Regions from separate parts of the Homo sapiens genome. Here regions 1 and 3 are each linked to region 2. Evidence: fine-mapped expression QTL. A gene starts in region 2. Each other region holds a variant in brackets. All regions are shown on one strand. Distances are from middle to middle.

Region 1 (8,151 bases), 140 kb before region 2:
TCACTCAGGCTGGTGTGCAGTGGTGCAATCTCATCTCACTGTAACCTCCACATCCCAGCTTCAAAGGATTCTTGTGCCTCCTTCTCCCGGGTTCAAGCACTTAGCCTCCTGAGTAGCTGGGATTACAGGTATAAGTCACCAGGCCCAGCTAATTTTTGTAGTTTTAGTAGAGACAGTGTTTTGCCACGTTGGCCAGGCTGGTCTTCAACTCCCGGGCTTAAGAGATCTGTCCGCCTCAGCCTCCCAAAGTGCTGGGATTACAGACGTGAGCTACCCCAGCTGGCCCGAAATTGAAATTAAGTAGCACCTAGTACAGATCTTGGGTATGTAGTAGCTACTATAATGATTTATGAAACATTTTATGAAGTTGTACCTAAAAGTTAATTAGCTTCCTGGTTGGCACTTTAAAAAACAACAAGGCCAAGCGCAGTGGCTCACACCTGTAATCCCAGCACTTTGGGAGGCTGAGGCAGGTGGATTGCCTGAGGTCAGGAGTTCGAGACCAGCCTGGCCAACATGGTAAAACCCTGTCTCTCCTAAAAATACAAAAATTAGCCGGGCATGATGGCAGGCGCCTGTAATCCCCGCTACTTGGGAGGCTGAGCCAGGAGAATCGCTTGAGCCTGGGAGGCAGAGGTTGCAGTGAGCCGAGATTATGCCACTCCAGCCTTGGCTACAGAGCGAGACTCCCTCTCAAAACAACAACAACAACAAAAACCCAAATCTCATCCATTTACCCATATGTAGCAGGCAAGAACTGAATGGCAAGATACCAGGGAAGTGGCATGATGACATGGCTGTTTATTTCAATACAGTTTTGAGACACAGGAAGTGTTGAACCTGGCTTTGGGTTTGCCACAGAATACTGAGTCTCTATAGATAATATGGGTAAAATTTCTTTAGGTGTATGTAACATGACCTACTTGCTCAGCTAAGAGTGCTGATTAAGTCCATGTTTTCCTAGTTATTCAAAATAATATATTTCTAAGTCTTATCCTGTGTGAAAATGGTTTAAAGTTCTTTTTTCTTCAAGTTCTCTTCATAGATATTTCCAAGGAGTTTCCTGGATTGTATTCAGTTTACAGGGTTCTTTCTTAGTTATTACTATAGGAGAAAAGTGTGTTTCTGCTACTGCAGGACATGGGTGGGAAGGAGTGAGTACGGACAGGTGACACATCAGAGCCCAGGGGATGTGAGGGGGAAGGAATGGGTCTGTGCAGCTGTACAGCGTGATGATAAGGGGTCGGATTCATGTTGGGTGAGAAGGGAATCCATGGTGCAGTGAAGTTCCTTAGTGTGGAGTTTCAGAGCCCAAGTGGGATGAGGTTGACATCTACACCAGGGAGGTGGTAGCTGCAGAGATAGAAGATTGGTTACATATGGAAGGAGAGGGATTGATAAATACAGTGAGGGTGATGAGAGCAGGTTTCTCATAGTAATAAGAGAGTTCCAAATATGGAAAGGAAGAAAACTACAATAAACCTTGTGGTATTAGATAGGAATATTGTGGTTGTTTCAATTTTAAAATATTTTAAATTATCGAAGTAATTTATAAATAATTTTGAAACAATATAGCTTAAAATGAAGGTATATAAGTTTATAAATGGAGCCAAATATTATGTATATACTCCTGAAGTGTTGCCAGACTTTGCTGAGCTTTGAAAAGAACCATATGGTCCATGGATTTCCTCGGATTATATGTAAATTTGCATGTGTGTGAATTTTTTTTCGGGAGAAAGAATGCATAGTTTTCATTAAATTCTCAGAGGGGTTTGTGATGCAAAAAATGTTGAACTTTTTTTTATATATATGTAACTGAGGGGACTCTGAGTTTATTTTTAGAAATCCTCCTGCAGCTTACGTTAATAGAGCATGTGTGGCCTAATTAAATGTAGGTTTTAAATCAGTCTTCATATATATGAGGAATTAACATTTTATTGAATACCTTTTAATGCCTAGAAGAAAAAGTACTATTATACATTGATTCATTTTCACAGCAATGATTTATTCTCCCAACAATGATACAAAGTAATTATTATCCTGTTGTGCTGATGAGGAAACTGAGATTGGGATTAAAAAGGTTGCCCAATGTTAAAAAACTAGCAAGAGGCCAAGTAAGGTAGTAGGTGTTCTTTCTGCTCCTCCACACTCTTATCTCCAGTGGAGTGCCTGCTGTGTTCAGGGCATTGCACAGGGTGCTGGTGATGTAATACTGAACACAACAGACTCTTACCCCAACCTTGTAAAGAATATAGGGGAATTAGGTATAGGGAATTTTAAACTATTGAGAATGCATTTATTTCAGATATTCCTTATATTGCTCCATTTGCTCTTTTAAGAATGCTAGCAATGTTTATTGTATTTCCTTAAGCCACCCAATACCTTTAGGGGAAAACACCTATTATTCAAATGCACAAGTGAGGCAGAGTATAAATGTGACTTGGCTCATTATCACCAAGTTTACTTGCAGGATCAAATTTAGAACCATGGTTTGTAATACTTTATATTACACAGTAGTCATCAGTCTGCATAGTTAAAAAAAACTAAACCTGTAATCCTAGCACTTTGGGAGGCCGAGGCGGGCGGATCACGAGGTCAAGAGATCAAGACCATCCTGGCCAACATGGTGAAACCCCGTCTGTACTTAAAAAAAAAAAAAATACAAAAATGAATTGGGCGTGGTGGCGCACGCCTGTAGTCCCAACTACTCAGGAGGCTGAGGCAGGAGAATCACTTGAAGCTGGGGGGTGGAGGTTGCAGTGAGCTGAGATCACGCCACTGCACTCCAGCCTGGGCAACAAGAGCAGGACTCCATCTCAGGAAAAAAAAAATTAAACCAGTTTTTAAAGCTATATGCATATTTATTAATTTCTCTCTAAGGGTACTTAGTTGTTTTTTTTACCCCCCTCCTTGCAAGGATTTAAAAAGAGAAAAAGGAAAGAGGTTCAGGGCTGGGTGCAGTGGCTCATGTCTGTAATCCCAGCACTTTGGGAGGCTGAGGCGGGAGGATCACTTAAGGCCAGGTGTTTGAGACCAGCGTGGGCAACAAAGAAAGACCCCATCTGGCTTTTTTTCTTTCCTTTTTTTTTTTTAGGGAGAGTCTCACTGTGTTGCCCAGGCTGGAGTGCAGTGGCACAATCTCGGCTCCCGAGTAGCTGGGATTATATGCAGGTGCCACCACACTCAGCTAATTTTTTTATATTTTTAGTAGAGACGGGGTTTTACCATGTTGGCCAGGCTGGTCTCGAACTCCTGACTTCAGGTGATCCACCCGCCTCGGCCTCCCAAAGTGCTGGGATTTACAGGTGTGAGCCACCATGCCTGGTCCCATCTTACTTTTTTAAAATGAGAAAAGATTCAGCTGTGTCTATTTAAAGGCTTCTCTCTCTCTCTCCTTTGGGAAGGACATGCTTTGTGCAGCTAAAATGGAGAAAGAGTGGCTAAGATCCTTAGGATCCAGAATGTCTGGCAACAAGCCCTAGTGGCTGCAATCACAACTATAAACATACAGCATTTCCCATCAGGGCATTTGCTCTGAAGAGGAGGATTCTTGTGGAAACAAGTAGGCTTAGAGAAATGCAAAACTACTCTTGGCACAGGCTGAGCTGCGGAGTGAAGCGCTCAGTTTAGCACTGTGGCTGAGAAGCTGTTGGTGTTATTCTCTGTGCTCACAAGAGAAGGTGTACAGTTGGTGTAGGATATGACAACAAAATGTTTTATAATCTCATCATACAAGCCCAAGAGAAGAGTGAATTTCAAGAAGTGTGAGTGCATGTTTAAAATTGTAACGAAGTTTTTTTCTCTTTGTTTTTGTACTTTTGAATAAAAATCTTCCTAGTAGATAGCAGTGCCTCCAGAAATGGTAGCTGATACCTTGAAATCTAGTTTAATTTCATTTAGCACATGACAGTGCAGTGCATGTCTTACAAGAAATTTTTATTCTCTCCATTATTACTCAATATGTCTACATCTCCCCTTGAAATTGCTCTATTATTGTGTGATAATGGAGAAATCTCTTAAACTTTCTGAACTGTGAATTTTTCCTTCTGTGGAGCAGTGAGGAAGATTCTTGATGTACTCTAAATGATTAACAAAAAGCATCATAATAGTTCAAGGCACAGATAGGCTTTGTAAGCTGAAAACCGTGGATTTGAAATCCTTCTTTATTACCTCTCAGCTTTGTTACCTTGAGTAAGTTTCTCATCCTCTCAGTTTCATCTTTGAGTGAAGGGTGGTAGTAATTATAACTGCCTCCTGGAGCTGTTCTGAGGATTATATCAAATATATGTGAAACTCTTTGTATATCATACCATACTAACATTATATATTAAATATGTATGATT[G/A]GAAACCTTGGTGATGATAAGGAAGGTGATATATGTGTGTGTATGCATGCTATTTTCTTTAGAAAGTGGTGACGTTATGCTGGGCACAGGTGTGTGTGCTTGTAGTTCCAGCTGCTTGAGAGGCTGAGGTGGGAGGATCACTTGAGCCTAGGAGTTTGAGACCAGCCTGGGCAACATAGCAAGACCTCATCTCTTAAAAAATAATAAAGAGGCTGGGTGCGGTGCCTCACGCCTGTAATCCCAGTGCTTTCGGACGCTGAGTTAGGAGGATTGCTTGAGCCCAGGAGTTCAAGACCAGCCTGGGCAACATAGTGAGACCCTGTCTGTTTATATTAAAAATAAAACTAGAAAAGGAAAAAGAAAGTGGTGAAGTTAAATGGGTTGTATTGAGGTTTCTAAAAACTACGACAACCAATCTTTTTGACATCCTCCTGTGTCCTCCCTTGAAATTGCTACCAGAGCTCCTTGACCTCTAACTTGGTGCCAGTATTAAAGTTAAAAGGTGAAATTGTAAGGTTCAGATATCTTATCAGCTATGTAAGCATCTATTTTGCATCTAACTTGGTACATGGAACACAATATCAGTCAGAATTAATCCAGAAACTTACATAATTTCAAAGAAAGTATTTTAAAATCATACTCTTAGGTGTCACTGAAATTAAAGAGGCTTTTCACTGTGGACAGCTTCATTAGATACTATTATGACTGTACTCTTTTTTTTTTTTTTAAACAAGTGCACTTGGCAAATGACACCTACCAGAATGAAAAGAAATCTGATTTTTTTAAAAAACAGTGAAGTTATTTTTAAAAACTTGATTGGAAAATGAGTTAATAAATATCAAGCACGTTGTGACTTCAGTTAACTTTATTTTTGAAGTTCTGGGTCAAGAATTTTTTCTTTAGCAGGAATGGGCATTTTGCAGATAGGTTAGCTTATTTGCCAGCTATCGTAGCCTTTTTAGTAAAATAAGTCATAAATTGTTTAGAATGAAGAGACTTTTTTTAATCCAAAAGAATCCATGGTTCATTGTAATATAACAATTTTATCAGTATTTCTAATTCTGGTATCAGTCATGCATATTCCATGGTGCCATTTGTATAATGTTACTACAACCCTATCTTGTCACTTTGTGATTTAATTTTTTGCTCTGAATACTTCACATAAACATATAGAGGGGTAGCTGCTTAATTCCACAGATTTACCATAGGCGATACCATGGAGTACAGATGACACTTTTCTACAAAAGTAGTCTTTTATGGAATGTTTAATTCCTTCCTTATCCCAATCCCTCTAGAATTCTTAGTTGATCATTAAGTTCAGATGTACAAACTACAAGCAAATCATCCTCAGAGACTTGGTTCAACCAAGAATTTTTTCTTAAGAAGCTTCAAAGATGAGGAAACTGACAAGTGAGACTCGTCTGTGGAAATATTTCATGGAGGAGTGACTTTTTAGAAAGAGCTTTTTGAAATATAATTCTTATACCATACACCTCACCCATTGAAAGTATACAGTCCATGGCTTTTAGTAGATTCACAGAGTGCAACCATTACTACAATTTTAGAACATTTTTATTATCTCAAAAGGAAGCCCCATACCTCTTAGGCATCACTGCCCAATCTCCCCATTCTCCCCCGGCACTAGGCAATTACTAATCTATTTTCTATCCCTATAGATTTGCCTATTCTGGACATCTTCTATAAAGGGAATCATACAATATGTCGTCCTTTGGGGCTGGCTTCTTTCCAGAAACATGTAATACATGGTCCTTCAGATCTGGCTACTTTTATTTAGCACATTGTTTTGAAGGTTTATCCATGTCATAATGCATTTCTTACTGCAAAATCATATTCTATTATGTGGATATGTCACATTTTATCCATTTATCAGTTGATGGACATTTATGTTGTTTCTACTTTTTGGACAGTATGAATAACGCTGCTGTGAATATCTGTGGAAACATTTATTCATTTCTCCTGGGTGTATACATGTAGGAGTAGATTAATCATTTAGGGAATTGCCAGACTATTTTCCAAACATGCCATACCTTTTACCACTAGCAATATATGAGGGTTTCAATTTCTGCACATTCTTACCAATTGTTATTATTATCTGTCTTTATAGCCATCCTAGTGGGTATGAAGTAGTATCACATTTTTATTTACACTTCCTTGGTGGTTAATGATGAGCTGAGCATCTTTTTATGTGCTTATTGGCCATTTGTAATCATCTTGGAAGAACTGTCTGTTCAGGTCCTCTGTCCATTTTGTAATTGGATTGTCTTTTCAATTTTGACTTATAATTTTTTATATATTCTGTGTACAAGTTCCTTATCAGATGTATGATTTGCAAGATTCTTTCCTCTGTGGTTTTTATCTTTTCACTTTGTTAATGGTGTCCTTTGAAGCATAACAGTTTTTAATTTTGATCATATCTATTTTTTTTCTTTTGTTGTTTATGTTTTTGGTGTCATATCTGAGAAACCACTGCCTATCCTAAATCAAGGACCAGGAAAAAAACACAAACAGACTCATTGACTATTCAAGGTCACAAAGATTTACATCCATGTTTTCTTACGAGAGTTTTAGATTTAGGTCTTTCATCCAAAAGATCAAGACTATTCATCTTTTCCCTGTGAGTTATCTTGACAGAGGAAATGATTCTTCAGCATTGTCTTTAAAGGAGGAATTTAAATAGCAGAAATGATAGCATTCCAGTCTGGTTTCTAGATAAATTATGTGAATTATATGAGATTAAGATAAGATATTTGAATCAGAGAGGTGTTTGCCTGTGTTGTATATAAGTAAGAGTTAAAATACGGAATTAGAGAATGAAGTTGTAGTGGTAGAAGTCTGTTAAGATATAACTGATGATCTCAACCTCTTCTGTTTAATAAGTTGTGGAATCTTCAGTGATTATAATAAGTGTGTGGAGAAATGGAGACAAGTTTAAGTATATGAGAGCTGCTCTAAATTTATAAGATAAAGCCAACAGAAAGCAGTTAAAGCAGAGATCGAGCATAAAAAATGTAATTTATAATTTTATTTCCTTCAAATAAATATAGCAGCACAGAATTAGAGACAATTAACTCAGTGGCAAAGTAGTAGAAAGATTGTTAGTGAAGAGTCAGAAGTCCTTAGTTCTAATTATAATCTATATTAGGTGTGTGACCTTGAATAAATCATGGCCTTCTGAATGGTAGCTTGCCTTTACTGAGGCTCTAACATATGCAGGACTTTTGCAAGCCTCAATCTTCTCTTTTATAAAATGGAGATAATGTCAAATTACTTTGGAAACTTTTTAAACAGCCATACAGGTAGAAGGGATTATTATATTTGAAATTTGGAAATTATTCAGTGCAGTACTACTAGTAGCAGCTGATAGTACATGTGTCTTTATTCAAAACAATTATGTAAGGGATGCTGTATCCTCCTTTTGATGATGAAGAAACCAGTTTTCAGTAATTATGAAAGTTATACTGTCATAGTCAACACAGCAGTGATTCTAATCCAGTTCTTCCTGATTTCTTTATATCACCATGATTTTTGCTTGAAAGATAATAGATCCTGGTGGGTGGGTATGGAAAGGGAATAGGATACTAGCAATGAGACTAAAATTATTAGACATATTAGACATATGAAAGCTTAAGGTATAATTCCAAAGGGGCAATGAGTCCTGAGATTGGTGATCTCAGATGTGAAGTGGAAGAGTGCCATATGTTAATAAGGTTAAAGGTATATGCTATCTGATTAACTTATAAGTACCAGAACTAGATGTTGTAAAGCCCAGTCAAATAATAGTTTATCT
Region 2 (8,151 bases):
CCAGATACGGAAACTGAGGACCAAGAAGCAGTGGCGCCGCCGTGGTCATGCAGATGGTTAGGGTCAGGCCTCTCAGCCCCAAGCAAGGGGCGCAGGGATGCAGCGGCTGAGAGCAGGGCCTGGACGCCTGGAGGCTGTGCAGCTGCAGGCCAGTGGCACACCACTCTGACCTTAAGTGTCCCCATCTGCAAAAGTGGGTTGATCAAAGGTCCATCAATGATAGACTGGATTAAGAAAATGTGGCACATATACACCATGGAATACTATGCAGCCATAAAAAAGGATGAGTTCATGTCCTTTGTAGGGACATGGATGAAGCTGGAAACCATCATTCTGAGCAAACTATCGCAAGGACAGAAAACCAACACTGCATGTTCTCACTCATAGGTGGGAACTGAACAATGAGAACACTTGGACACAGGATGGGGAATATCACACACTGGGGCCTGTCGTGGGGTGGGGGGAGGGGGAGGGATAGCATTAGGAGATATACCTAATGTAAATGACGAGTTAATAGGTGCGGCACACCAACATGGCACCTGTATACAAACGTAACAAACCTGCACGTTGTGCACATGTACCCTAGAACTTAAAGTATAATTTAAAAAAAAGGGGGGTTGCTAAGACCCCCCCCGCAGGGTTGCTCCCACGGGGAAATGAGACGGGTCCAGCCCCCGAGAAGCAGCAGTGATGGCTCCCGGCACCACCTAGGCCCATGGCTGGATTGCCAAGCCGTCCCTAGGACTCTTGTTTCCAGCACCTTCCTGTGGCTGAGGCGGTGCTCTAAAGCATTAACCTTGCAGGGGCATTTCCTGCAAGGAAACGTTCTCAGAGGCCAGGCCCAAGGGACGGGAGGGCAGGAGCCCCCTCCTCCCAGCGCAACCCTGGCCCCACTGTTATTTTTTCCAATTGAAGAAGAAAAACATTTCCTCTGTCTCCTCACAGCTCTGCCCTGGGCAGTCAGAGGTGAGAATGGACAGGACAGGGTGGGAAGCCCACCCAGTGGGGTGGAAGGCCCAGGCCCGCCTTCTCCGAGCCAGCATAGCCGTTGACCACCGTGCCCCAAGCAAGACTGCCCTGACTCGGCCACCAGGTCCTCGTCTTCAAAGGCACTGCTGGACATTTCCCAAATTTCAGGCATTTTGGTGGCATCTGGATTATCACCTATTTCACATTTGTCTTTAACTCACTTTTAAAGGACTTCAATCAATGCATTTATCAAGGAAGCTTTACATCATTACTGTACATGGAAAACCAGTAGCACTTGCCAAAACCAGAAAGTAACGGCAAGTACAAAGAAAACAAAGCGCTATCAGTACATTCTAGCACGCTGATGTCAACAGCCCTGAGTTTGAGACCTTCTCTCTATTAAAAAGAGACAGTGACAAATGTTACAGTCATTAAAGACATGTTAGCCTCAAACCAAGACCTTTTCCTTGATATAATCAGACTTGAACAAAAACTGAAAAAGGCCCAAATTGCAGTGTGAATAACCAACTAGGTCTGGCTATTCTGGGTTAGTTCATTCCAAGTTAGTTATTGCTGGGTCCCACCTAATCCCCACTCCTGAGTACCTTTCATCTCCCCTTGGTTCCCTCCAAAATTCCCTCTGGAAGAACACCTCATTGCATCTTAGTAAGGCCAGGGAAGGTGTGGTTTGTTCCTTCCTTTATTCATTCATTCAGCCAGTAATTGTCAGCACCTCCTCTGCCCAGCCAGGGGTATAGGGGCTGCCACCATGAGCCATCCTGGCCTGATGGTGCTCCCAGCTAATGGGTAGAAGGGAGAAATCATAAGATGTGGAGCCAGATCTGGGTTTCAATCCTTACCTTGCTAATGCCCCTCAGTTTCCCCATCTGTGAAATGGGTTTGCTGACCACAGCCTAGTCAGCTGGCTGCAAGGATGGTGTAAGATCTGGTAGGGCAGTGCTGGGCACAGGATTCACTCTCACCGTCTGGTGGCTCTGCTAGCCACATTGGGGCTCAGGACAGGAGGTGGAGCCCTGGTCTTTAGTTGCAATGCCCCCCACCCCAACTCCTGGCTCTAACATGGGCTTCAGGGGTCATGGTTCACTGCCACAAGGCGGGGAGAAACTGGTGTTTGCTAAGAGCCTTGTTGTGCTTGACACCTGTTATGTTATATTCTCCATCTCACACCCTCCCAGGGGCAGGTGTTCTGCTACGATTGTCCTCATTTTACAGTTGAGGAAACTGAGGCTCAGAGAGGGTGAGTGCCTTGCACAAGACCACACAGCACTTCTCACCTCCAGTTGATGTGAGGATACTCAGACCCGAATACCCTTCACCTAGAGAGCTCCTAAACCCCACTGCTCAGCTTGGCAGGGAGCTTGTGTCCCAAGTGCCCAGGATCATCACCACAGGCTGGTCTAAGACAACACTGAGCATTATCCTCACGGCTCAGTGGGGGGAGCTGCAGGATGCAGCAAGATGAACCAGATGAGCGGGAGACAGGAAGGAAGAGAGGAGGGGCTGGAGAGGGAGTGGGGGTGAGGGATAGGGAGGGAGACAGAGAGAGAGACAGAGATAGAGACACAGAGAGACAGATGAAGAGTGGAAAGGGAAGGGGGCAAGACACTGAGAGAAGGAGAGACAAAGAGAGTGAACGGGAGGAGCAAGACAGATAGGAACAGAGATGGGTGGGGGCAGGAGAGAGAGAGATAAGACAGAGAGACCAGCGGATGGACTGGGGTGGGGGCACTGAGGATGTGAGTGAGGAGGAGGGGCATGGAGGCAGGCCCCATGCACCCCTGCTGGGCTCTGCAGTTGGCCCCCACGGGTGGCACGATGTGCGCCTTCTCCATCCAGAGAGGAAGACAGGGACACAGTCCCACGGGCAGTCCCCTGAGTGGCTCTTGGTGGGTGGATGGGCCTGGGAGGGGGCCTCCAATTTCCTGCAGCTCAACACTCCCGGCCATCAAAGCAGTGGCCAGACCAGGGCTGAGGGGTCTGGAACAAGGCGGGCAGGATGGCAGGAAGGCGAGGGTGTTGAGGGAAGTGGGGGGCGGCTGCAGGCCCAGCCTTTCCTGCCGGCCCCATGGTGCACAGACACCCCTGCCCTTCCTTCCTGGTTGGGTGGGAAAGAGGAAAATGAGGTCCCGCTACTCTCAGAGTGAGGCCCACCGGGCACCCTGTGGAAGCTGGGGGTCTGATGGGAGGCCCCGTTCTGAGAGGTCGGAGCTGAAGGGCTTTTGCTTTCAAACACTGTAGCTCTGCTCCTCATGAGCTGTGCATCTTGGGCCAGTCCCTTCCCCTCAGCCTTGGTTTCCATATCTGGAAGATGGGTTACCAATAGCGCTCGCCTCGGGGGAATCTGTGAGGAAAAAGAGAGCCCGTACATGGCAAGTGCTTGGCACAGTGTCTGGCACGGGCTAGCCCTGTGTGAGCACCCCCGCAAAACAGCCACGGCGCATGGTCCTCACAGGGCTGTGACCTTGGAACCAGGCTGCCTGCCCCTAACGCTGCTTTTGAGATCAAGAACCCTGCCCAGTGCCGGCTTTTGTGGGACTAATCTTCCACTAAGCCTGGGAGGATGTCAGGGAAAGTGCCTGGCGGGGGTGCCAGGGGTGGGGGTGCGGCTGGGTCTCCACAGGAGGCAACTGTGGGCTCCAGGACCAAGGCCTTGCTCTGGCTATCGGTTGTGGGCCACTGGCTGGAACTATTTCCTCTCTCCATGTTTTCCTCATTTATATATCTGACCCTGAGCACTGGTCCCTCTGGCCCTGCCACTTGTAAATCCCTTTTATGGGTCTGGGGTTTGGGGGACAGATTATGGGGTCTGGGGGGCCCGACTGGCCGGCACCGGGGGAGCGAAGGCCTGGACAGTGCCTGAGAAAGGTGGTGGAGGGAGGCTGAGTGTGGAGGGGAGACACAGGGTTCGGGAAGGCAGAGGGAGAAGGAAAGGGGAGCTCAGAGGGACCGAGAGAGGGACGGAGGGTCCGAGGGGGAGGCAGAGGGAGCCACGGAGAGAGGGAGCGAGCGTCAGGGACGGAAAAACGGAGCAGGAGAGAGAAGGAGACTAGAAAGGGCCGGGGGCGGGGCTGCCAGGGACTGGAGAGCGAAGCGGAGTCGGAGGGAGAAGGAGAAGCAGAGGCAGAACCCGGAGAAGCGCCACACGCGCGGAGTTTGGGGTGGGGACAGAGACGGAGAGACGCAGAGACCGAGAGACGCAGAGAGAGGGAGAGACGGGGTGGGGGAGAGGGCGGAAAAGAGAAAACAGGCGCGAGCGAGGCAGGCCAAGCGGCCAAGTGGGAGGAAAGAGCGAGGAGAGCGAGCGACGGCGGCGGCGGCTACGGGGAGGGACCCTGGGGCCGCGGGCGGGTCCTGGAGGGCGCGGGCGGCGGGACCCGCGGACGGCGGGGCGTGGCCCAGGGCGGCCAGGGGCAGGCGGGGGTCCCGGGGGCGGGCGGGGCCGGGGCGGGGAGTGAGGGCGTGTCCGCAGCGGAGCCGCCCCCGCCCCGCCCCCGGGCTGCGCGGCGAGGCTGACCCGGGCCCGGGCGCCGGGGTCGGGGGCGGCTGGCGCGGGCAGGAAGCGCATCGCGGCCCGGGCCCGCCCCCCGCCTCCCGCCGCCTCCGGGCTCCCGGCTCCCGGCCGCGCCTCGCCCCATGCACTCGCCGCGCCGCGCAGCCCGCGCACGCCCGGATGGCTCCTCGCGCCGCGGGCGGCGCACCCCTTAGCGCCCGGGCCGCCGCCGCCAGCCCCCCGCCGTTCCAGACGCCGCCGCGGTGCCCGGTGCCGCTGCTGTTGCTGCTGCTCCTGGGGGCGGCGCGGGCCGGCGCCCTGGAGATCCAGCGTCGGTTCCCCTCGCCCACGCCCACCAACAACTTCGCCCTGGACGGCGCGGCGGGGACCGTGTACCTGGCGGCCGTCAACCGCCTCTATCAGCTGTCGGGCGCCAACCTGAGCCTGGAGGCCGAGGCGGCCGTGGGCCCGGTGCCCGACAGCCCGCTGTGTCACGCTCCGCAGCTGCCGCAGGCCTCGTGCGAGCACCCGCGGCGCCTCACGGACAACTACAACAAGATCCTGCAGCTGGACCCCGGCCAGGGCCTGGTAGTCGTGTGCGGGTCCATCTACCAGGGCTTCTGCCAGCTGCGGCGCCGGGGCAACATCTCGGCCGTGGCCGTGCGCTTCCCGCCCGCCGCGCCGCCCGCCGAGCCCGTCACGGTGTTCCCCAGCATGCTGAACGTGGCGGCCAACCACCCGAACGCGTCCACCGTGGGGCTAGTTCTGCCTCCCGCCGCGGGCGCGGGGGGCAGCCGCCTGCTCGTGGGCGCCACGTACACCGGTTACGGCAGCTCCTTCTTCCCGCGCAACCGCAGCCTGGAGGACCACCGCTTCGAGAACACGCCCGAGATCGCCATCCGCTCCCTGGACACGCGCGGCGACCTGGCCAAGCTCTTCACCTTCGACCTCAACCCCTCCGACGACAACATCCTCAAGATCAAGCAGGGCGCCAAGGAGCAGCACAAGCTGGGCTTCGTGAGCGCCTTCCTGCACCCGTCCGACCCGCCGCCGGGTGCACAGTCCTACGCGTACCTGGCGCTCAACAGCGAGGCGCGCGCGGGCGACAAGGAGAGCCAGGCGCGGAGCCTGCTGGCGCGCATCTGCCTGCCCCACGGCGCCGGCGGCGACGCCAAGAAGCTCACCGAGTCCTACATCCAGTTGGGCTTGCAGTGCGCGGGCGGCGCGGGCCGCGGCGACCTCTACAGCCGCCTGGTGTCGGTCTTCCCAGCCCGGGAGCGGCTCTTTGCTGTCTTCGAGCGGCCCCAGGGGTCCCCCGCGGCCCGCGCTGCTCCGGCCGCACTCTGCGCCTTCCGCTTCGCCGACGTGCGAGCCGCCATCCGAGCTGCGCGCACCGCCTGCTTCGTGGAACCGGCGCCCGACGTGGTGGCGGTGCTCGACAGCGTGGTGCAGGGCACGGGACCGGCCTGTGAGCGCAAGCTCAACATCCAGGTACACCCGGGCGGTGGCGGCGGCGGCGGCGGCGGCGGCGGCGGGGGCGGGGGCGGGGGCGGGCGGGAACCGAGCGGGTCGTGAGCTGAGTGGGTCACAGGTGGGAGCGCGCAGAGATCCAGATGTACGTGGAACCCAGGTGTGCACGCGAGAATACAGGTGTCCCCCGAGGGGTACTACTGGCGCCTGTATGGCCCAGGTGGGCATGTGCAGGGACTCAAGTGAGTGCCGGCTCATGGGCGCGCATACCTAGGCGTACTGGGAGGGGTCCAAGTTGCCACAGGTACCCAGGTGCGCATAAAGCCCAGGTATGCACGTGAGGGTCACAGGTGCATGCTGAGGGCGCAGTAAGTGACTGCATGCCTGACCAAAGTTGTGTTCTGGGGCCACTGCGTGAGCCTGTCAGAGTTACCATTGCACGTTGGTGATGGGTGCATGGGTGTGGCAGGTGTGCAAGGAGGCACACAGGTGTGCACCAGGGCCCTGCAGATGTCTGCATGGACTTGTGTGCCAGCAAGCTGGGGCCTGAAGACGCACAGGGCAGACAGGTGTACTGCACAGACACTGGTACAACGGGACAGGGCTAGGTGTGCAGTGGGATGTGCGTGGCAGGGGACGCAGGTATTTGGGCATGAGTCGGTACTCTGAGGAGGCTGCATGGTTGGCAAACAGGTGTGTGCCTGAGGCCAACTTTTATTCACCTATTCTGCAAATATTTCCTGAGCACCTAGTATGTACCAGGTGTGGGAGTCTGGGGTAAACAATAGCACTTGTGGAGTGCCAGCTAGGGGCATCACATGTCACAATTCCCAGTTCTCAGAACAACCCTCTCAGGTAGCCTCTATTCTCATCACATTTTACAGATGAAGAAACAGGCACAGAGAGGTTAAGCAACTTGCTGAGGATCACACAGTTGGGCACTAGCAGAGGTGGATTTGAATCCAGCCTGTCTGGCCTCAGCATCTGTGTTTTTAATGCCCAGCCTTTGCTGCCTTCTGGACTTGGATCTCAGAGTGCGTGTGTTTTGGGGGCGTCCCAGGCAGCTGGGGTGGGCAGATGCCAGGGCCAGGAGAATGGAGGGATGTGAACAGGGGTGTTTTGGGGGCAGGAGAGGGCCGTGGGGCTCAGTGGGGAATGAGGAGGAGTACAGGCAGGCATGGGGCCCAGGTGTCTGAGGCTGGGTTGGGCAGTAGCAAGGGGGGCCAGGTTGACGGAATCAGCATGTGTGTTGACATGACAAGGGTGCGGGAGGGGACTTGGTGTGGTTCCCTGAAAGGAAGTTCATGGCAAGGGATTGCTCCTCACACTGGCTTTGGGAGCTGGGTCTGTTGATCCCCATAGTTCACCCTGAGGAATGAGGCCCCAGAATGACACTGGGGCCTTTCCCACACCCTCCACCCATCTGAGTCTGGCGAGCCCACTTCAGCTCCACTGCCTGCCATTCCCTTAGGAAGCTGCATCTCCATCAGCAAAATGCAGAACTCAGCCTTCTTGTGGTGACCCAAGCCTTCCTTGGGGCCCCACCCTGTCCCTTCTCCATGGCTGTGACAAGAATTTCATGAGATTAACCATTCCTCTGTGGGCGGGCCCAACACTGGGGCTTTGAGAAAATGCAGATTCCTTCTCCCAAGGTCGAGGTCGGTCTCCCACGACTGCCCACCATCTGGCCGGCCACCCTGAAAGTAAAGGTCACGGTGGGTGAGCAGGGCAGACAGTCCAAAGGGTGGTGGGGCTGCTTGCCCTGTGCCATGGTTGGTTCATCCACCATCTCCACCCCAGAGCTTCATCTCGCAGGCAACTGTGTTTGGCACTGGGGGTCTCAGTGGGGAGTCGCTGAATGGAGAGAAGTGTCCTGTGGACTGAGGGCCTTCCTCCAGTAGTTTCAGGCCCTGTGTCTCGGCCCTTTGGTGTAAGCTGATCTGTGGGATTCCTTAGGCCAGCCCAGGGTTCCCTCCCCCTCTGGCAAGAACCATTCTGGTTCCCACGGTCCGCTCCCTCGGTGCAGTGACTCACCCAGCTGAGGGGGGCTGGAGCTTCTCTACCTAAGGGGACAGGGCCTCTCCAGGGACACAGCCCCAGGACAGAGTGGCGAAGGGCCTCTTCCCCACCCCAAGGCCACAGATTCCGGCTGCGGCCTTCCTTGGTCACCCTCCCTGTGTTTTCCACACCCTTCTCCTCTT
Region 3 (8,151 bases), 52 kb after region 2:
ACCTGTTCAAGGCCATTCTGAGTATCCGTGAAGACAAGCCCCCACTGGCTGTCAAGTACTTTTTCGACTTCCTGGAGGAGCAGGCTGAGAAGAGGGGAATCTCCGACCCCGACACCCTACACATCTGGAAGACCAACAGGTGGCGGGTGGGGGGGCCGTGTGGACTTCACTGTGCCACTGGGGCCCCTGTGGCAGGGGGTTCAGAGTCTAGTCTTCTGGCCTCGCCTGCTTGGGGTCAAGCCCTCCTCTGCCATTTCCCAGCTGTGTGTTCTCGGATGAGTGACTTAGCCTCTCTGTGCTTCAGTTTCCCCTCCACTGTAAAATGCGACCCATGTTAATGGTGGGAATTAACTAGAAGAGTGCCCAGAAGCATGGTCTAGGTGTTGCCCTTACTATCATTCTCCCGCACCCCTCTCAGGTGGGCACCATCAGCTCCACTTCACAGATAAGCACACTGAGGCTCGGAGAAGCAGCACCTGCTCAAGACCACACAGCCTGGGACAGTAGAGCCAGGCTCGGCCCTACATTATCTGAATCTCTTACCCAGTTGGTAGCCCTCCTTTGAGGCACCTCTTAGCTTGTCGGGGTCATGCACCCCCACAAGAAGTTGCTGGAAACCCAGCCTGACCCTCAGGAAGAATACCACCAGCCCAGGCGCCTCTGTGCAGGGCAGCAGCTTCCTAGAGCTCTGGGGGTACACATGCCCAGGCTGCTGAGTCACTGGGTGGCCTGAGGTGGGGGTGGGGGTGTTGCTCACCCTCTCTGGCCTCTTGAGGACAAGGCCAGAGCTCCAGGCCCTGCCCCCCACAGCCCTGCCACAGCTGCTCTGCTAATGTCGGACTTCCTGCTGCCTGCAAGGGTTCAGGGAGGAGCCAGGGGTGCCCGGGGGCCGGCACCTGGTTCTAATGAGAACCAGGACCTGACTGGAGGCTCAGGAGGGGGTTGGGGGGTACAGCTAAGCCCTGTAGCTCCTGCCTTGCTCCAGCAGGAAACCGGGCTCTCAGCCCCACTGCACCCCAGCTGGCCAGGGATAGGCAAACTAAGGTTCCCAAAGGTCACATCTTGTGACAAGGCTCCAACCTCAGGCCCTTGAGGGACAAAGCCAGCTCTCTCCTCCACAACTGTCCCTCGACTGCTTCCTACCCCACCCTACCCTCACTGTCTTTGTCACCCTACCCCACAGCCTTCCTCTCCGGTTCTGGGTGAACATCCTGAAGAACCCCCAGTTTGTCTTTGACATCGACAAGACAGACCACATCGACGCCTGCCTTTCAGTCATCGCGCAGGCCTTCATCGACGCCTGCTCCATCTCTGACCTGCAGCTGGGCAAGGTCAGCTGTTCCCAGGACCAGGCCAGGCCCATGCACAGGGCCAGAGTGGGGTGCCGACCATGGGTAGCCTCCTCGACTCTCTGAGGCTGAGCTCAGAGATCTTCCTGGGAGGGGAACCAAAAGATCTCAGGTCTAGGGGATGTGGGATGAGTGACTCATTCAGACAGGGAGACACCTAGAAGCCAGTACCTTCCATCAGAAACTCTGTATCGCTGCAGACCAACTGCACATGCTGCAGCTGTGCCTGGCACTGGCTTTGAACACAGGCCTGAGAACCCGGTGTGGGAAAGCCAGTATGAGCTTGGACAACCTGCTTGGTCAGGCACAACATCATCTGAAAACCGGGCCAGGCTCTGGGCAGTAGCCCCTGAAAGTCAAAAGCCATTCAAGCGAGCATTCAGTGAAGGGGTGGGCAGAGGGGTGATGGGTGGCTAGGAGCTCTGAGATTCATGCGGTGTGTTGGGGGCACACAAGGCTGTGTCTGGCTTTAGAGGTTGAAGATGAAAGAGGATGGCCTTCCAGGCAGAGAGAACGGCGCAGGCAAAGACAGGGAGGCAGGAAAGCAGCCGGTTGCTGTGAGCAGGGATGAGATTGTATCATTAAAGCTGGCACTGCAGGATTGGTCCAGGTCGTGTGTGACCCTGCATTTAGCCCACGCATTTCAGAGACGGACCACGGGAAGGAGAAAATGCCATCGCTCCACTACTACTCACGTACTGCCTCCGAAGGCAGGGTGCCCGTGACTGACAAAGAACTGGGAGTGTTCTTGGCACTTCTTTCAGGCGTTAGGAGCATGTGGTGGGAAATATTCCACTGAGCCAGCACTCAGGCTTCCAGGAATCCTAGCCACCAAGACCTATCACCCTGAGAAGGACACATCCTTGTTACGTGGAATGGGCTGCGTGCAGTGAAGAGCTGGCATGCCCGTGCACTTTTCCCCTGAAAGAAGTAGGGCCCCTCCCCACCCACATCATTGTCCTAACAGTCCTGGGGAAAGTAGGCGGGGCAGACAGAGCACAGTGAGGAGCCCCTGGTCTGGGGCCGGCTGAGTGCGGGGACGTTCAGTGACCGGGTGAGACTCTTTGGGCCTCGGGGGCCTGCTAAGGTCACTTATGTGGCAGGAGGGATGAGGGCTCATCCAGAAAACGACCAGATCCGTCCTTTCTCCAGCAGCCATCTAACACCCTCGCTCTTCTCTGCCCAGGATTCGCCAACCAACAAGCTCCTCTACGCCAAGGAGATTCCTGAGTACCGGAAGATCGTGCAGCGCTACTACAAGCAGATCCAGGACATGACGCCGCTCAGCGAGCAAGAGATGAATGCCCATCTGGCCGAGGAGTCGAGGGTGCGGTGGCTCGGCGGCGGGGGATGGGGGCCTGAAGAGCTGAGGGATCGGGGGTCGGGGGCTGGGCCTCAATGCCTCCACTGGAGTAAGGGCAGGGAGCGCAGAGGGCATTTCAGAAGTGGCTGTGGCCTCTTGCTGGCCTGCAAATTCGTCATGCATTTTCCCAGAGTTTGAGGAGCGGGGGCAGGAGAGCACCCTCTGGATGGAGAGGAGATTGGACTTCAGGGTCCGGGAAGCCGTCTTCGTCCATGGGACTTGAGGGGCCTCATCGCTGAACTGTTCTGTGGGGGCCGTGGGGAGTTGGGGATTGTGTGCAAGCAGCTGGCTTTGCTGGGACTAGGCTCAGCTTTGACCGCTGGGCTAACCTCCTCCCCATCCTGCCTCCTTATAGAAATACCAGAATGAGTTCAACACCAATGTGGCCATGGCAGAGATTTATAAGTACGCCAAGAGGTATCGGCCGCAGGTGAGTGCCCCAGGGTGAGGCACCTGCCCTCGGGGTAGGTGAGCTTCCTACTCAAGGACACACATCTCAGGGTGCTTGCCCCTAATGGACGGATGTCACTCGTGGTAGACGTTCAGGGGTGTGTTCTCTCCCACGAACTGAGGCAGGGCTACCGGCCATGGCCCGGCTGACTCCGCTGCTCCCCTCAGATCATGGCCGCGCTGGAGGCCAACCCCACGGCCCGGAGGACACAACTGCAGCACAAGTTTGAGCAGGTGGTGGCTTTGATGGAGGACAACATCTACGAGTGCTACAGTGAGGCCTGAGACACATGGAGAGTTGGTCAGGCTGCTGCTGGGAGAAATGGACGCCCACTGGGCCTCAACTTGATCTTCTACCCCGTGCCTGTGACTCAGACTGGGAAATACTGAGCAGAGACGGCTGGGGCGGGGGCAGGAGGAGGGGCTGCTCTCTGAGACAGGGGCGCCCCCGCCTTGACCCCTGGGCACCTCCATCCCCTCCCACCTGTCCCCAGATCAGTCTCTGGGATGGAGGCCAGAGAGCTGGTCAGGCTCCCCCATCTGCCCAGCACGGCCTGCACTGTGCCCACCCACTTGCTCCACAACGTCCAGTTGGTCCTGCTGCCAAGAGCCCCGTGCATCCAGGCGGCCAAGCACAAACTGGGGGAGAGGAGGCCGCCAGCCCGGAGGCTGCAGCCCAGAAACTCTACCTCATCCACACTGGTGCAGGGAGCCCTCCTTGAACTGACCTTTGATTGGTTTCTGCTTCAACTACCAAAATGTTATCTCCACTTCCCCCTCACCCGTAGAGGATCCTGGCCACAGACAGTTTCAAGTAGTGTCAGATTTTTGTTGCTTGGGCGGCTGTTGGTAGAGTGGGCAGTGCCCGCGCCATGGGGTGCTCTGTGGGCTTCTCCAGGAGCAGGGAGGGTGGAGGGGAGGGATGGGGGGCACAGGAGCTGGGAGCCCCGTCTCCAGGAAAAGGAGAGGGGTTAAGATGCACC[G/A]AGGCTGTAGCTGGGCTACTTGATCTTGCTGAAAGTGTTTCTAAAGATAGCACCACTTTTTTTTTTAAAGCTTTTATATATTAAAAAACGTATCATGCACCAACTGTGAATAGCTGCCGCTTGCGCAGAGGACCCGGGGAGGGGTCCCGAGAGGCTCCCCATGCAACACTGGAAATGACTGTTCCAGAGAGCGGGCAGACCTGGCAGAGCGCCCCTGGCGCCTGAGACTACCACCCACTCCGTTCCTGCCAGAAACGACCCTCTGTGGCCGATGGGCCATGCGGGCCCCTCGCAGCCAACTCAGCCAGTGTTGGGACTGGCTCAGAGCCCATGGGGGCTGGAGGGGGGCAGCTGGGACTCTGGAATCTTCTTTATAATAAAAGCCTTACGGACAAACCTACTGTGGGCTCCAGCCTTTGTCCTGAGATAGCCAAGCGGGAGAATGGGCAGTTTCTTTACCAGTTTGTGAGAGAGAGGAGGGAGGGAGCCTGCCGTCCCTCCTGTCTCAGCTGCACTCTTGAGGTTTGGGCAGACACCTGACTAGCTTCTGAGAAGGCAGTCAGAGGCCAGGAGATGAAACGAGACGGTGCAGGCTGCATGCATGCTGTGGGCCCGGCCCAGAGCTGCCATTCCTTAAGCTCTGAGGACACCCCGGGACCTCCAGGAAGATTTCACAGCTGCTGTGTGCTGCCTGCAACTGGGTGGGCCCTGCTCCTAACCTCATCTCTAACAAGCCCGTCAGGAATGTGCTAGCATCCCTGTATGACAGACGCAGCAACTTGAGGCTCAGCACAGCTGAAGCAATTCTCAAGGTCACACAACCAGGAAGGGACAGAATAAGGACCAGGTCCCATGGTCCTTCCGGGCCAGAGTCTCCACAGTGGTCCCCAAAATGGGCGGGGAGGCCAAAGGTGACCACCCTGGAAAGGGAACTGACACTTAACTTACCCCGAATTTCTCATCAAGCTTAAAAAATACGTAGCATTAAGCTCATTTCTCAGACAAGGAAGCAGGCAGTTTAACCCCCAAGCCCAGTTTAACCCTAAACGCTGTTCCCCACAAGTACAGGCTGTTCCTCACCCCTGCCCACAAGAACAATGAACCTGATGCAGACACCCCTTTCCAGCCCTGCTGGCTCCTCTCCAACCCCAGGGAAAGATCTCGAGAGCCAGCTCCAAAGGTACAGCAACTCCACTTAATTTCTTGCTTTTTTGAAGGAAAAATAGTTACACATGTATTTATCAAGAGTAAGAACTAGGACAAAAGATTCATAAAATTTAAACAAAATCCCACAAATACCAGTTCTAAAATTAATGAGAACAGAAAAGTGAGAACAGTAAACAACCTTTTGCTTTAAAAATAGCTTTTTCCTACAGTGGCTTCTGTGTGGAGAGATAGTCTTTATCTTTCACATTTTCTATTCTGAGCATTGATTCCTTCTTATTAAGCAGCAGATTTTCTAATTTAAGTTATCAGCACATTTGATAGCATTTTGAGGGTGAGGGGGGTGGGTGTGATTCTGGAATGAATACACGGTTCCCAGAGAAATGTAGGAAGCACAAAAAGCGTGAAGAAAATAAAAGCTGCCCTAACCGTTTGTGGCGAGCGTCTCTGAGAACGCCAGCCGCACGGGGCGCTTGGATGGGGCGGGGCCGAGGAGTGAACTCAGGATCAGGGTGTGCACACCATTTTGCAACCTGATTTTCCCCCATGCGACAATATGTCAGTAACATCTTTCTATGTCATTAAATATTCCACAGCCTGTCTTAATGTCTGATTAACATTCAGTTCCTCCTTGACGTTTAGAAATGTATTTGCAAATGGAGGAAATCTCTAGTTTCCAGAGTCGTTTCTCAGCGCAGAAGGTGGCCACCTTCCATGAACCAATTATAATCCTTATCTGGGGCTCTGAGGACCTGGCAGCTGTGGGCAGGAGGGAGGTTCCTACCCTTTGAGGGTCATAGGAGGCTAGGGACCCCTGATGTAGCATCCTTAAACTAAACTCCTTTGAAAAGGAAAGAAACCATTGCAGCTAAGGGAGGTAACTTGCCCAAGGTTTCATGGATGCTAGACACCCCCCACCCCTGTCCCCAGCTCATGGACGTGAGATGCCCACTGATGCCCCCCGCACTGCAGGCTGCCTGGGGGTGCCACAGCACTGGGCCAAGCCGTGAATGAGCAGTGGCAGGAGCAGACCCCTCCTCAGGAAGCACCAGCCCGGCCCCATCCCACCATCTGCTCTGGGTGCCCTTCTGGGTCCTGCTGGCAGCCACATTACAGACACCCCAGGGGGGCTGTCAGCACATCTAGGCAAAGCCGGGATTCCAGGAGGAGAGGGTGGGGTGGTGGAGCAGGGGCAGGAAGGGAGCAGCTGATGCCCCATGCTGAGCAGCCTGCTTCCCTTTGTGCCCCGTCTGCCCCCTTCTCAAGTCCTGTGCAGTTTGCCTCTGACTCCCTTTAGTCCACCCCTTCCTTCTCTCTGTCCTCCGTGGCTAGGCTGCCACCTCTCATCAGGACCATATCTCGGCAGCCTCCTGGCACGTGCCAAGTCCTCACCTCAGGAAATGGTCACCCAGCAGTCACTTAGCTATCTAGACCCCAAATTGTGGACTGACTCATCAGTGACCCTTCCTACATCCAATCCATCAGCAGAGCCCGTTCACACCATCTTCAACAGCGATCCAGAAGCTACCACTTCTAACCCTCCCTCTGTGAGCATGTCCTGGCTGGTCACCACCCCCTTCATCTGGGTTGTGGCAGGAGCCTCCTCACAGGCCTGTCTGCCCGCCCACATCCCTGCAGAGACTCTGTTGCTTGCCGTCCTCTAATGGTTCCTTATGACAAAGCCCACCGTGCTTGCCCTTGGCTTACAAGGCCCTGCGTGATCCAGCCGCCATCTACCCTGCAGCCCTTGTTCCAGTGAAAGGAAGGGGATCTGTTTAGAAAGATATATTGCTATGGGACACACCACCCCAGTACCTAGTGGCTTAAAATAACAGCAGTCACTTATTTTGCCCACGAATCTGCAATCAGGGCAGGGCTTGGCAGGAAAGGCTTGTCCCTGTTCCACCAGGTTTCTGCTGGGCCAGCTCAATTAGGGCTGGAAGATGCAGTTCCAACACGCATTCAGATGGTGGCACGTGGTACCAGCTGGTCAGAGAGTTCAGCAGGAGCTGAAAAATGGAGTCCTCAGTTCCTCTCCACAAGCTGCATGGGCTTTCCCATAGAGTGGTGGCCAAGTTTGAAGAGTGAGTATCACAAAACAAAAAGTGTCCTCAAACACAAGAAGTAGAAGCTGCCTTAAGGTGGGGCCCAGAAATTATCACAGCGTCATTGTCACCAAATTCTACTGGTCAAGTAATCATGGAGCCCAGAGTCAAGAGGTAGGGACACAGAGCCTGTCTCTCCGTGTGAGGAGTGCCGCAGATGTTTTTAAAGCACCTTGGACCTCGTCTCCCATCCCTGTGCTCCTCTTTACTGGGCTCTAGCCACACAGACCTTCCTGCAGCTCCCAGCGTGAGGAGCATGTTCCCACCCCAGGGCCTTTGCATTCACTCTTCCTTCTGCTGAAATGGTACCCCCTCCAGACAGAGATCCTTGCTCAGACAGCCCGTCCAACCCTGTCTAAACTAGCAGCCAGCCCTACCCACCCCGCTGGAGGCCCAGCCCCACCTCTTCTTCAGAGCACAGGCGCTGGCTGCAGAGTAGGACACCTGTCAGCCTGTCGCAGTGCCTGGCCCAGGAGCACTCGGGAACCAGTGGCTGAAAGGTCTCCCTGTCTTCTCAGCTACTCTAATCCTTCCTTTCCACTGCCAGAGGGTTCTTTCTAAACAGATCCCCTCCTTTCATCCCACCCCTCAGATGGCATCCTCTGCCTCATCTGCCTGACAACAGCTACCCATCCTTTAGGATCAAAAGCCATCTCATCCTGGAAGCCTGATCGCAGGGCCAGGTTAATCTCCCTCCATCAGCCCCTTTGCATCCCGATATCTGTGCTGCAGCCCCA

What was found. PIP is the estimated chance that this variant, and not a neighbour inherited with it, causes the effect.
Region 1: its variant is the best candidate, but not a certain one, in a credible set for the expression of PLXND1 in whole blood (INTERVAL, PIP 0.66).
Region 3: its variant is the best candidate, but not a certain one, in a credible set for the expression of PLXND1 in lung (TOPMed, PIP 0.51).

The regions. Positions count from the first base shown.
Region 1 is chr3:129,740,855-129,749,005 of GRCh38, reverse strand. All of the region lies in intron 4 of TMCC1 (transmembrane and coiled-coil domain family 1), which reads left to right. Among named protein-coding and RNA genes, the nearest start is that of PLXND1, 140 kb to the right of the region's middle. The variant G/A (reference allele first, on the strand shown) is at 4,344.
Region 2 is chr3:129,603,149-129,611,299 of GRCh38, reverse strand. PLXND1 (plexin D1) reads left to right here and starts at 4,624. Exons shown (of 36, transcript NM_015103.3): 1 at 4,624-5,971. The coding sequence starts at 4,661. It overlaps LOC124909431 (a long non-coding RNA gene), which reads left to right. Exons shown (of 2, transcript XR_007096079.1): 2 at 946-1,422. RefSeq lists enhancers at 2,412-3,402, 3,403-4,395, 5,388-6,380, 7,373-8,151 and silencers at 4,296-4,455, 4,606-4,665, 7,800-8,094.
Region 3 is chr3:129,551,608-129,559,758 of GRCh38, reverse strand. It overlaps PLXND1 (plexin D1), which reads left to right. Exons shown (of 36, transcript NM_015103.3): 32 at 1-139; 33 at 1,184-1,331; 34 at 2,536-2,676; 35 at 3,068-3,142; 36 at 3,331-4,545. The coding sequence ends at 3,447. Among named protein-coding and RNA genes, the nearest start is that of H1-8, 13 kb to the right of the region's middle. RefSeq lists enhancers at 699-993, 559-1,448. The variant G/A (reference allele first, on the strand shown) is at 4,146.